Linked DNA regions of Homo sapiens: all the other regions are linked to region 2. Evidence: fine-mapped expression QTL. A gene starts in region 2. Each other region holds a variant in brackets. All regions are shown on one strand. Distances are from middle to middle. Region 1 overlaps DLG1 (discs large MAGUK scaffold protein 1). Region 2 holds the start of MELTF (melanotransferrin). Region 3 has its middle 10 kb from the start of MELTF-AS1.

Evidence for each region. PIP is the estimated chance that this variant, and not a neighbour inherited with it, causes the effect.
Region 1: its variant is the best candidate, but not a certain one, in a credible set for the expression of MELTF in monocytes after LPS (Quach 2016, PIP 0.81).
Region 3: its variant is the best candidate, but not a certain one, in a credible set for the expression of MELTF in whole blood (TOPMed, PIP 0.66).

What each region holds. Positions count from the first base shown.
Region 1 is chr3:197,176,811-197,181,014 of GRCh38, forward strand. The region is part of intron 5 of DLG1 (discs large MAGUK scaffold protein 1); the gene reads right to left. Among named protein-coding and RNA genes, the nearest start is that of MIR4797, 120 kb to the right of the region's middle. The variant T/C (reference allele first, on the strand shown) is at 2,444.
Region 2 is chr3:197,027,499-197,031,702 of GRCh38, forward strand. It overlaps MELTF (melanotransferrin), which reads right to left and starts at 2,319. Exons shown (of 16, transcript NM_005929.6): 1 at 2,156-2,319; 2 at 258-412. The coding sequence starts at 2,204. RefSeq lists silencers at 1,582-1,761, 1,952-2,001, 2,052-2,541 and enhancers at 2,075-2,711, 2,712-3,348, 3,736-4,204, 4,040-4,204.
Region 3 is chr3:196,990,511-196,994,714 of GRCh38, forward strand. It overlaps the pseudogene RPSAP30. Among named protein-coding and RNA genes, the nearest start is that of MELTF-AS1, 10 kb to the right of the region's middle. RefSeq lists a silencer at 288-582. The variant C/T (reference allele first, on the strand shown) is at 1,890.

The DNA.
Region 1 (4,204 bases), 150 kb after region 2:
CAAATACCAAGGAGTACAACTGCTGGATCGTATGGTCAATTTTGTAATTTAAAAAAGCTTATATAACCATTGTAACCAACTACTTTTGGTTTAATCTTCATCTCTATGCTTTTCTAGAGTGTCCTATTGAACAAATGATATAAATTTTATTTTTATTTTTTATATTATTTTTTATTTATTTTTATTTATTGTACAAATGATAAAAATGTGTTGAAACAGTGTTTAAGAACCAATTTTTGAGTCAGTACATGTAGGTGCACTGTAAAAGTTTCCAGAAAAACAGAAACATAAAATAGATCCTACAATATTTTTTGTGTCAAAGGGGGAACAATTGATTTCCAAGTCTGAGTCATCATATTAATTTCGCAAAGTTAGTAGCCTTTTGAGTAGAAAATTAAGAAACAAATGTGTCTGCCAAGGGTCAGCATCTCACAGCCAGTACAACAGCGTTTCCATCCAAACTGTGAATGTTTGGGGAGTCAATACCAAAGGAGACTATTTCCACCAATTTCTCTGGAAAATAACCTATCAATTAGAGTCAGTATTTTCAAAGCAGTTTAAGAAGATTGTCTACCTACCCTATACGTAGTCTACTTTTTAGTACAAAAGCACTACACTAATGAATATGAACAATTCCATTCCTTGGAGATGAAGAAAAAATATTTTATCAAAACACAATTATCATTACACATGAGACAAAATGAATGTGGTATGTACCGATAACACGGTTAGGTCAATCAATCTAGGATGGTCCAAGATGGAGATGTCTTGGTGTGAATTTCAGACCTGTTGCCTGGTGGGAATAGTCAGAAAATAAATGGTTATAACAGAGTGACCCCATATGCCTCTATTTACTTGGGAAGTCTGTATTTATGCCTGTTGTCTCACTTTAATTATTAATGATTCCCTCTTTTCATTAAAGTATCCTAGTTTGGTCTGAGTTATATAGTTATCCCAGTTTTGAGGAAATTGAATTCTCTTCTCTCCCTACCTCATTTCCTTGTGTGTATTTCTTCTCAGAGGGCAAGTAAGAATCATCAGTTAGAGAACTATTACAATGCTAAATAAAGTGTGATGCGCGCTTCACAGAAAGTCTAAGGGAAAAGACAGACAAACACACCTGCTTGGGCCCTCCTTAGCACAAGTTCGTATGTCCCTGTCTCTTCACTCATTCAACAAATATTTTCTGGTTATCTACAGTGTGCCAGCCACTGTCACAGAAACTGAGGATACAACAATAAACATAACAGAAAAATCCCACCCACATGGAGCTGACAGTCAAGTAAAAAGACAGTAAAAAATGTATAATAAAGAATCAGGTAAGAAGACAGAGTAATGTCTGGAGTGAAGGGGTGCTACCTTAGAGGAAGCAAAAAATATTAACGAGAGAAGTTAGATGTCTACTGCTGTAGTTCAGGCAACATATTATTGAATCAGTAGTTGCAGAAGTGTTGAAAAGTGGCCAAATCATAAATATATCTTGAATAAAAAGCCAACAGGATTTGGCATCAGACTGGATACGGAGCAAAGAAAAAAGGAATAAAAGATAATTTTAAGGGTTTTTGTCTTCAGCATCTTAGTGAATGGCATACTGAATAAAGAAGATTGAGACCAATAAAACTAGAAATTCTCTTTTTAATATGTTACCTTTCAGATGCTTAACCGAAGTGGAGATACTGAGTAGAAAGTTAGATATAAAAGTCTAATGTACAGGGATTAACTCTGGAATAAAGAGAAATACTGATGGTATTTAAGGGCATAGGACTAGATGCGATCACCTGAAATGTGAGTATAAAAAGAGAGTTCAAAGACTGAGCCCTGAGACATTTGAACATTTAGCAGTAGGAAAAAGGAGGATACTATAAAGGAAAATGAGGCTGGTAGAATATTAAAAGAGCAGTACTATCCACGAGTCAAAGGAGAAAAAAGAATTTAGAGGAGGGAGTAATCAATTGTGTTAACAGTTGTTGTAGGGTCAAGTAAAATGAACACTGAGAACTGGCCACTGGATTTGATAATCTACACTCACACAACGAGGGTTTTTTGGATGGTTGTTTTAATGAAAGATATTATAGCAGGTGTACATCCTGATAGGACTTATAGAGGCAAGTCTAGGGGCAGTACAGAGGCAAGACAGATGATGCAGTGAAGAGAGAAAGGGATTTCAGAAGTTCTTGAACAACCAAAGGGACTACGATCTAGTACAGAAGTGAATATGGGTAAGCTTTAGGCACACAGTTCATTTATTTTAGCAGGCTGGAACACAAAGCAAGATTATTTATTTGAGAATAAGACCAGGAATCAGGTATTGGAAGTTTAACGTGCAGTCTGCGAGTTGGTATAGAGAAGGCAGAGCTGCAATCCGGATGGTCTGGACTTTCTGTGGTGACAGGCTAAAAGGGATTTAGGATCTAAAAATAGTCCTCATGATATGTTTGGGGGA[T/C]GCTTAGGGGAGCTTGGTACCAAGTGGATAATCACTTAAATTTAGTCATCTACACGTGACTGGTTTTCACCAATTTGTAGAAGGGAGTGCTAGGAGGGGAGGAAAGGTCAAAAAACTGGTAGTCTCATCAAGAATTTCAAAGGCTCTTTGGGGCACCTCCCTTAAATCCTGTAATTAAAGGTGTTGAGATCTCTGGTTCTTAAAAAAAGTGGATGGCTTGTACTTACAAATTAACTTAATCAGTCAACAATATTTACTGAATGTTTGAATGTACTGCGCTATCCTAGGTGCAATAATTCCTAATAATCTATATCTGAATTTGTTCATATACTATTAGAGTTAAATGATATAAAAATAAGCTAACAGGGGCACCTAACTCTAATGTAGCACTTACTCTGTGTCAGATGCTGTCCTAAGTACTTTATTAATATATACATTAAATTATTTGGTAGAAGTGACTCAATGACACTGATACTGTTATTCTCTCTATTGGACAATATATCCAATGCATAGCTCTAAAAATTAAATCCTCTATAACTCAGAAGGCATCTGTTTCAGACAAACAATATTTTTTAAAGTGTACAAATTAGCCTAAATATTTTTCCACACAGGCACTTGAACAATGTTTTCCTATATTTTTGACTTAGGACAGGGTTTTTCCTCTAAGCAGATTATTCAACTCAGCTAATATTTACTCTTTAAGAAAACTTTATTATTCTATTTCAATTCTGACAAGTTTTCATGTCTGTTCCATATTCCTAAGAATACAGCTTTGCTGCTCTCAGCTTAATTTGGCATGTTGTGTTTTTTTTTTGGGGGGGGGGGGGCTTTTTGAGTATTTATAGTGCTCTATATGTTGAGATTTTCAAGTAGTCCAAAATGTATGAATAGCTGCTATACACACATTCAAAATGACTGAACACTTCACAGTTATTTAAAGTTCATATGATTACTACTGACATTAATAAACGTCGATATCACTAAGTAAATAAAACTTTTCACCTAGGCGTTAATCAAGTAAAGTCTAGCAGCACTGTGCTGGAGTTCTATAAAACCCTGCTGAATATAAAAACTGGTCCCAGATTGGAACAGGACTGTGTATGCTAAGTAGGACGGGGCCGATTATTGAGTGACCCTCAACACAAGAATAGGAGGGACGCTGAGGGTGCGGAACCAAGGAGGGCTTCGCAATGCATAGAGAACTTTTTCTATACTAATCGTTTGAAATTAAGGACAAAAACACTATGAAGCCTCAAACTGAAAAAGTTTCACCAATGTAATTCATAAGAAACTCATTTTTATTTAACATTAAAAAATAAAACAACCTCTCAAAAAACCCACAATGTAAAATGAGATACAATGAAATGATAAAACTGAGAGACAGTGTGTAAGCTATTTGGTTATCACTACTGAGTGGGGACTGAAAGGGGTGAGGAAATCAGGGGAATCGGGGCAGTGTGACTGGAGGATAGTATGAAGAATGGAGGGGAAGAAAAGGCAGTGGAAAAGGAGATGGGCTGCTGTGAAAAACCAAAGACACTTGTGAGGGAAGAGAGAAGATCCAATCAATACAGGTACTGAAGAGGTATTAGATTAGGTGTCATATTTTGGAAGGCCAGGAGATAACATTTGAGGTGAATGGAATAAAAATTAATTAATTCTATAAGCATTTATTAACACCAACTACATGCCAAACCCTAACTGAGAAGCTAGGTGTCTTGCAAAAGTTTATAACCACTCAGTTTCCTTATCATTCAAAAA
Region 2 (4,204 bases):
GGCCTTGTGGAAGGGAAGCCTCTCAGGTGCCTTTCTTTGCTGGCGCCCTCTGAGCAGCGGGTCCTCCTGAGGCTCCCACCTCCTGGCCTGGGCCCGGCGGGAGGCAAGCTGGCCTCGTGGCCAGGGAGACTCGGGAGATCCTATCGGCCGGGCCTGGCAGGGCGAGGTCGGCTCCTTTCCTGGTGAATGGGGCTGTTGTGTGCTCCCTCCTGAGTCACAGCCCTCTTGTCTGGCAGGGTGGAAGGGAGAGGACTCACCGCGATGAGCTGGACGCAGTGGTCGGCGGAGGTGCCCCGGACGCAGAGGAGGGAGGGCTGGATGCCCGCTTCCCGGAAGGCCTCGCTCATGTTGCCGCACTTGTGCTGCTCTGGGTCCGAGGTGGCGCACCACCGCACCTCCATGCCACCGAGCACTGCGGGCAGGGGACCGTGAGGCCCGGCTCCCCCGCCCTGCCCAGCCCCGGCCCACCATGGAGGGTGGCTCCAGCAGTTCTGTGTGAGCCCATTCGCCTGGACAGCCAGTCCTCTAGGGCAGCCCTGCCCTCCCACAGGGAGGCACTAGGCGCAGAGACAGGGGAAGGGCTGGTATTCCTGTGCTCAGGGCCTCTCTGACCAGGAGCACGGCTGCTGGCAAATGGAATGGCTCAGAACCCGGCCCTTTATGGAGGAATGGGAGGGTCTACAGGTCGCTTCTCAGCTACCCCCACCTGGTGGGAGCACTGGCTAGGGAGTCTCGGCAGGCCCTGGAAGTGGAAGCTTCTTCCCCTCTCCAGGCCTCCCGAAGAGGGTGCTCGTGTAGGTTCCCTCACCCAGCAGTGTCCCTGGGCCTTCCTCATGAACTGGGACGGGAGAGTGAGGTGAGGGGGCTGTGGGTGGGCTGCCCTCCAGGAGCCCTGTCCCCTCGGGGAGTGTCTGCGATGATGCTGGCTGCAAAGCCACCCTCGGTGGGCACAGTGCCAGGCCCTGCCAAGGGAAGACGGCAGGCACAGAGGGGAGGCTGAGGACCCATCAGGGTAGGTTCAAGCCTCTCTGAGCCTGCTTCATCTTCTGAGAGAGCAGATAAAAACCCCACCTTCTGTGTTGAAAGTAAACCCCCTTGTAGAGAGCCTGAGACACCCACATCCTCAGTGGACTTCTGCTTATGCCTCAGGATCTGACCGGGTCAGAGTCCCCGAGAGCTCCCAGGCTAGGGGCCCAGAGGAAGGGGTGCTGGAGCCCCTTGGGGCCGATGACTTTCAGGCCTGAGCTCCTCTGCCATTCACCCTGCCCCAGCCAGCACTGCCAGAGGCCTGTGCAGGAGGGAGGGAAACGCATGACTCCGCCCGAAACCAGGTCACCCTCCCGTGGCAGCCCCACCAGCCCAAGGGCCGAGACTGAAGCTTCCGCCACAGCCCTCCCCTCCCCACTCCTGGCGGAGGCCTGGGAAGTCGAACTGCCCTCCCCTCCGCAGCGCTCCAAGCCCCCCACCACCCAGGCGGGAAACTGCAAAGTTCAGACGGGGCGGGGGTGGCGGTGGCTTCATCGTTTGCATTGATGAGTGCGTCGCCTGCGGCCACAGCGGTGCCACGAACTCCATCCCCTCGGCGGTCGCCGCCCGCGATCCCCGCGAGCCGCTCCCCGAGGTCCCGCCTCCCGTCCCACCATCCCGGGCCCTGACTCCCCGGGGCGCCGACGCGAGGGGACCCGGCCTCCGTCTCCACCTCCATCCCTGCATGTGCCAGAAACCCCCGGGCGGACTCCCGCGCCTGCCGGTCAGTCCCTCTGAATCTTCTCCCGCGGGGGCTCGGGAGAAAGAGCTGCTCCGAGCCCCCAAAGTCTTCCTGAGTTCCTGCGCCCGTCGGGAGGGGCCGCCCTCCGGGAGCTCCTCTCCACACCCCGAGGCCTCCCCACCACGCCTCAGCCCGCGCTTCTCCTTGGAGCGTCGGAAGCCTCGGGTGTTCGAGGCCGCCTCCTCCAAGAAGCCTTCCAGACTTCCCCGTCTGCGCTTCAGTGCTAGTTCCCTCCGCCGTCCTCACTCGACCCCGAGCCCCTGCCTCCCCCGTCTCACTGCCCCGGAGCCGCAGGCTCAGGCACATTTCCAGCCCCGGGACCTGCTCAGCCGGGCCGCGGCGCCCCGGGACCCCCGCCCGCCTTTGGCTCTCACAGCGGGGCCTCACCGGTGCGCAGAGCCAGGAGCAGCCACAGAGCCCCGCTCGGACCCCGCATGGCGCCGTCGGGGCTGGCTGGGGCCGGGCTGGGGCTGGGTCCGGGTCCGAGGAGGTCCGCAGCAGCCGGGCTTCCTCCCTGCTCCCCCTCGCGCTGGCCCGAGCTCCTTAAGTGCGGCCGCGAGTTCCCGGGCGGAATCCACGCCCCTGGGGCGCAGGTCACCTCCCGCCGACCCCGGACCCCGCCCCTGGGCGGCCCCGGCGCGCCCCCTGCTGGAGGCCTCCCGCTCGGGCCCGGGCGCCGCTGCTCGGGGCTCTCGCCTCAGCCTCCTACCCCGCGTTCCAGGGTATCCTCCCCTCCTCGCGCCCTAGAAAGACTCCAGATACCGTGTCTAACTGGAGAGAGAAAAGCTCAGACGTGGAAGGAAGGAGAGGTCAGAATCCCAGAGTCGGGGCTGGAGGGCAGCTGGAGGATGATCTCATTCACGCAGCAGCTCCCTCCCAGCACAGCTGCACAGAGGATCTGGGATACGGGGGAGCCCAGGCCGAGCGCCCTGGCGAGGGGGGAGCCGGGCAGGGGCATCTCGGCCACAGCTGCACAGAGGATCTGGGATACGGGGGAGCCCAGGCCGAGCGCCCTGGCGAGGGGGGAGCCGGGCAGGGGCATCTCGGCCACAGCTGCACAGAGGATCTGGGATACGGGGGAGCCCAGGCCGAGCGCCCTGGCGAGGGGGGAGCCGGGCAGGGGCATCTCGGCCACAGCTGCACAGAGGATCTGGGATACGGGGGAGCCCAGGCCGAGCGCCCTGGCGAGGGGGGAGCCGGGCAGGGGCATCTCGGCCTAGCCGACTGCCTCTCCTCGGGCCTAGAGACGGGAGGTGACTTGCCCGAGTCAGGCATCCAGTCAGTGGCAGAGCCAGCTGATTGGAAGGTGAGAAGAGGACCAGAGAGGAATTGGAGGAAGCGGAAAAGGAGAAACAGGCGGAGAAGGGGAGGAAGAGAGTGAAGAAGGTGAGGGAGGAAAGGGTGGGTTGACCGTATTTCTAGGACAGTGGTTCTCAGTGTGGTCCCTAGGCCAGCAACGTGAGCATCACCCTGGAACTTGCTGGAAATGCAAGTGCTCAGGCCCCACCTCCGACCCACTGGATCGACAGCTCTGGGGGCGGGGCCCACAATCTGTTTTTATTTCGGGGCACAGCAAATGTTGAGAACCACTGTCGCAGGCGGGCAAAAGCGGCACTCCCCATGTGGTTGGGGATGCGGGGAATGAACTGAAGACATTGTTAGTCACCTGCCTCCATTTAGGCCTCACCTTTATGTCATCAGCCCCTCTGAGACTCAGAAATGATGTCTCTCTCTGACATGGGTAAGTACAACAGTGAGAGAGAAGACATCCCTCTGAGTTTGTCTGTCCTTGAGCTTGCTCTGCGCCCTGGGGAAGGAAGGCCTCCCTCCTATGGGGCCATGAAGCTACTGCTTATCACACACTGGATCAGGGGAAGGAACATGGGCTGGGCTTCAGGAGACTCGAGCTCTACTTTTTAAAAACCAGCGACTTACAGACCCTGGGCGAGTTCGTCGCCCTCTCTGGGCTTGTTCCCCACATGTAAAAGGTAGGTCATGATGGCCGTGACGTGCCATACTTTCCGTCTCCTGTCTGCTCTGGAGGACTTGTGCTGTGGAAGCTGTTTCTCCATCCCCCCAGATGGATCCCTTCTTCCTAGTTTGCACAAAGGTGCCGAATGGACTAGCAGGCAGCCTTGCTAGAGGGGCTGATGGCTTGTCCTAAGAAGATGGAATAAATAGAAGAGTCCTTAACAAGCCTCGTTCTCCTGACCACGAGGATAGAAAGGCTCAGTTGGCACACTCCAGGAGCCACCAGATGACTGGCAGGATCTGTTTGATGACTAAGTCCTTCCTTTGGCAAAACTCCACGTGACGCTGATAGGGAGTGAGAACAACCATAACCTAAGAGGTTTGCTGGGCTCTTTCACAATGAAGTTCTTCCCTTATCTCTTGGGTGTCATTCAGCTGTGACTCATCAGTGAACTTGCTGCCTCT
Region 3 (4,204 bases), 37 kb before region 2:
GACCCTGCAGGACACAGCCAGCACCCACATTTTGCTGTGTGTGCCATCATCATTTTTCACCAGCACCCCTCTCAGAGAGACCCGAGGGAGCCACGAGCTTGATGATAATAGGGACAATCTCTTGTTTTACAGCTCTGTAAACCAAGGCACCAGGGCTCTGCAGAGATTGTGTGGCCAAACCCAGGCTGCCTGGCTGGTATCGGCACCTGCTGCTCTACAGACATGGGCTGTGAGCAGGGCTGAGGGGGATGACTTCTCCGGCCCGGCTGCGCCCCCCTGGGCACTGGAGCTCACGGGGACTAGGGCAGGGAGGCTGCGGGGATGGAAAGATCCCAGGCAGCTTCTGCCTCCTTGGAGCCACTATCAGTCTGCAGACCACCAGCCTGCCAAGGTCAAAGTTCACCACTCTCTCCCTGAAATGGATGTTATCCACAAGCTACCGGGCAAGGTCCAGTGTATCAGTGTGGCCTGATCATGTAGCGGCTCTGGTATCGGATTGCCTGGGCTTCAATCTGGCTTATTAGCCGAGTGATCTTGGGCAAGTTACCCGTTGTATTAGTCCCGTTCTCATGTTGCTAATAAAGACATACTTGAGACCGGGTAATTTATAAAGAAAATAGGTTTAATTGACTCACAGTTGTGCAGAGCTGTGGAAGCCTCAGGAAACTTACAGTCATGGCAGAAGGAGAAGAAAGAAGTGCTGAGCAAAAGGGGGGAAAGCTCCTTATAAAACCACCAGACTCAGGAGAACTCACCATCACGAGAACAGCAGCCCGGGGGGAACCGCCCTCATGATTCAATCACCTCCCACCGGGTCCCTCCCATGACTTGTGGGGATTATGGGAACTACAATTCAAGATGAGATTTGGGTGGGGACACAGCCAAACATATCACCTATCATCTCCAAGACTCAGTTTCTTCATCTGTAAACTGTGTCTTGAATACTGATACTTCATGATGTTGCTTTGAGGGTTAAACAATGAGATTTATAGGCAGGGCCTAGTGCACATAAGCCCACCCTCTAAGTGTCAGATATTCATATGTTTACTGGGATTAAGGTGTGGGCTTTGGTGCTCTGGAAGTGAATTCAGGGCCACCATTCACGGGCGACCTGATCTCAGGGCAGGTCACCACCCTCTCTGTAGTGGCCGCTGTGGGGCCCTGGCCAGTGCCCCTTCAGGGCAGAGGCTCTGGTTCCTGCAGCTTCCGGGAGTGTTGATGGTTTTGGTGGGGCCCAGCTGGGTTTCTCTCTGGGAGGTGCCCTCAGCTGAAGAGAACCACCTTGCTCAAGGTCGCCCCCATCTCCAAACCTGTGTCCATGAGGGCTGCCGTAGGGATAGAAAGGCCAGGCCCTCTTGCCTCAAGGCAAGATAACTCGGAAGGTTCACCAGCCGGGGCCTTCCTGGCTACTGCATGGCACTCACTCCTCTCTCTGCCCGTCCCGTGGCTTCTTACCCCCTGGCAGGCACTGTTTGTGAGAGCACTCCCTGAGAAGCCTGCACACAAATCTCCGTCCTCGAGTGTTTTCCTGGGAACCCAACCTGTGACAGTTGGTGCCAGGAAGGATCCTAGGAACAGACTCTAAAATGGGATCTTGGTGCTGCGTCCCCTGCCGGCCAGCTGGCAAGCAGGACCAGGCACATGGCTGTGGCACAGCTGTTCCCACTCGCCCGGCGGAGAGCGGGTGGGGAGCTGGTGGGAGGGATGTGCTGATGGAGGCTGGTCCCGCACACTGTGTCCTGTTACGCCACAGCCGGGAACCAGACCCTGGGTTCAAGTCCGGAGCTGTGATGGCTGCGTCCTCATCAGCAGGAAGCCCTGTCTCCTAAACGCTTTGGTTTCCTGAACTGTGAGGGGGTGAGGCGAGCTGATTGGCCAAGCTGATTCAC[C/T]GCGGTCCCTTCCAGCTCTAGCATCCTACACAAGCCCGAGAACTAGGGAGAGGGGTTTGGGCGGGATGGGAGCGCCCTGGAGCCAACAGTGTGAATAAGCGAAGGGTAGTGGATGGAGGAGGCTGGAGGAGATCTTCTGGGGCCCACGCTGCCCGAAGCGGCCTGTTTCATCCTGGGCTCAGGCCCTCCCCTTCCTCCCCCGAGCCCTCCCAGGTTCTGATGCTAGGGCACCTGTCGCTGACCCAGCTGGGCCTGGATTTTCGTCTACTTTCCTCAGGATGCCCTTGTCTCCTAGACTTCCCTTTCTTCCTCCTGCGTCTGCCCCAGCCTGGCAGGAGTGTGCACTCAGGACCATTAGCAGTTGGGGAAGCTGGAGAGGACGTTGCTCAGGCACACGTTTGTGGGCTGTGGAGCCCTGAGGAGCCTCTGGGCTGTGGGTGCCTCCCTGCATCCCCTCCCAGCCAGCCCACAGGCAGGCACTCAGGGAAGACGTGGAGGCTCTGAAGGGCTAAGCGACAGCTTGAAGGCCACACAGCTGGTCACAGGGCCACATCCCCCACGTCCACATCCAGGACTGAGTAGCCCCAAGCTGCAGCTCCTTCCGCAGCCTCCTCAGCCTCCTCATTGAGGCCACCTGCGTTGTTCAGAGTTGAGAGGTGACATTGGGACTGTGCTTGGGACAGTGGAAGTTTTACTTTTACTTTTTGTTGTTGTTGTTGTTTTTGAGATGGAGTCTTGCTAAGTCGCCCAGGCTGGAGTGCGGTGGCGCAATCTCGGCTCACTGCAACCTCTGCCTCCCGGGTTCAAGCGATTCTCCTGCCTCAGCCTCCTGAGTAGCTGGGATTATAGGTGCCCGCTACCGCACCCGGCTAGTTTTTGTATTCTTAGTAGAGACAGGGTTTTGCCATGTTGGCCAGGCTGGTCTTGAACTCCTGACCTCAGATGATCCACCTGCCTTGGCCTCCCAAAGTGCTGGGATTATAGGCGTGAGCCACTGTGCCCAGCTCTTTTACTTTGTATTTGCTTGCTTATTTATTCATTCCAAAATGATATTGATTAGATATTTAAAAGGCTTTAAAATTCAAAACAAAGAGTTAAAGAAACTAAAATAAAGTTTAAAGAAAGTAAAAATTACCCCTTAAATTCCACCAACTGGAGCTAGTCACCGTTAACAGTTTGGTGAACAGATTTCCAGACAGCTCTGTGTGTGTGAGTGTGCGTGTGAGTTTGTATGTGAGATTTTATGATAATGGGATTATATACTGTTTCATAACCTGCTCTTTTTACTCAACAATATGCCGTGGAACTCTTTCCACATCGGTAAATGTAGCTGCACCCTTCATTTAACAGCTGTAGACCATCATCCATTGCATTCCACTGGGAATGAAGGTATGAACCGTGTTTCATTTACCCAACCTAATACTGGGCATTTAGGCTGTTTCCAGTATGTCTCTTATTACAAAAAACTGAGGCACGGGCACGATGACACCTCTGTCTTGGCCATTTGTCCAGCTGCTGTCTTAGGTCCATTTCAGCAGGTTGGTCTTCAAGAACAATCCCTACAGCAAGCAGGGGTACTGTGCTGCCTCATTGCAATGGCAGATCCTCATTTTCAGGAAATCCAGGGCTCCTCCCCAAGGGGCCAGGGCAGCAGAATCACACACACGAGGAGACAGCTTTCTCCTCGGGAAGTTCTGTGTGAGAGGCAGAGAGGGGCTCTTGCCCCGAGTCCATATCTAAAGTCGTGACTAGTCGTCCCCATGACAGTCTGCTCGGCTTCCTGCTGGAGTCTGGGGGGCCTGAGGACGGCCTGCAGCTCTGCAGGGGGCTCGGCTTTTCCTCCAGGAGGCAAGTGGGCTAAAGAAACTCGGGCCGAAGGCGGCTGGGAGGCCGAGGGCATCCCGGTGGGAAGGAAGGCTTGGCCTAGTGCCGCTGCTTCTCTGCAGGCCCCAGCACAGGAACTGAGACGGTGGGATCGAAGAAGTCAAGCTCACAGTTGGAAGGGGAGAGACCCACAGCCAGATGACCATAGGGGTGACAATTCTCATGCACTTGGTCAGGGGTGGATAATAAGAAAGGGGGTTGGGAGGCGATGGGGGTAGTTTCTCCATTATCAGACTGTGGCCTATATATTGGCCGGGTGAGGCCTTTTAAAAAAACACAGACTTACTTTATATTTACGAGCAGTTTAAAGAGCAGGCCAGTTGGGCAGAAGGTACAGAGATTTTTCCATCTACCTCCCGCCCCTACACAGGCACAGCTCTCACTACATCCTTCAGAGTGGTGCGTGTGTCACAATTCACAGCCCTTCCTTT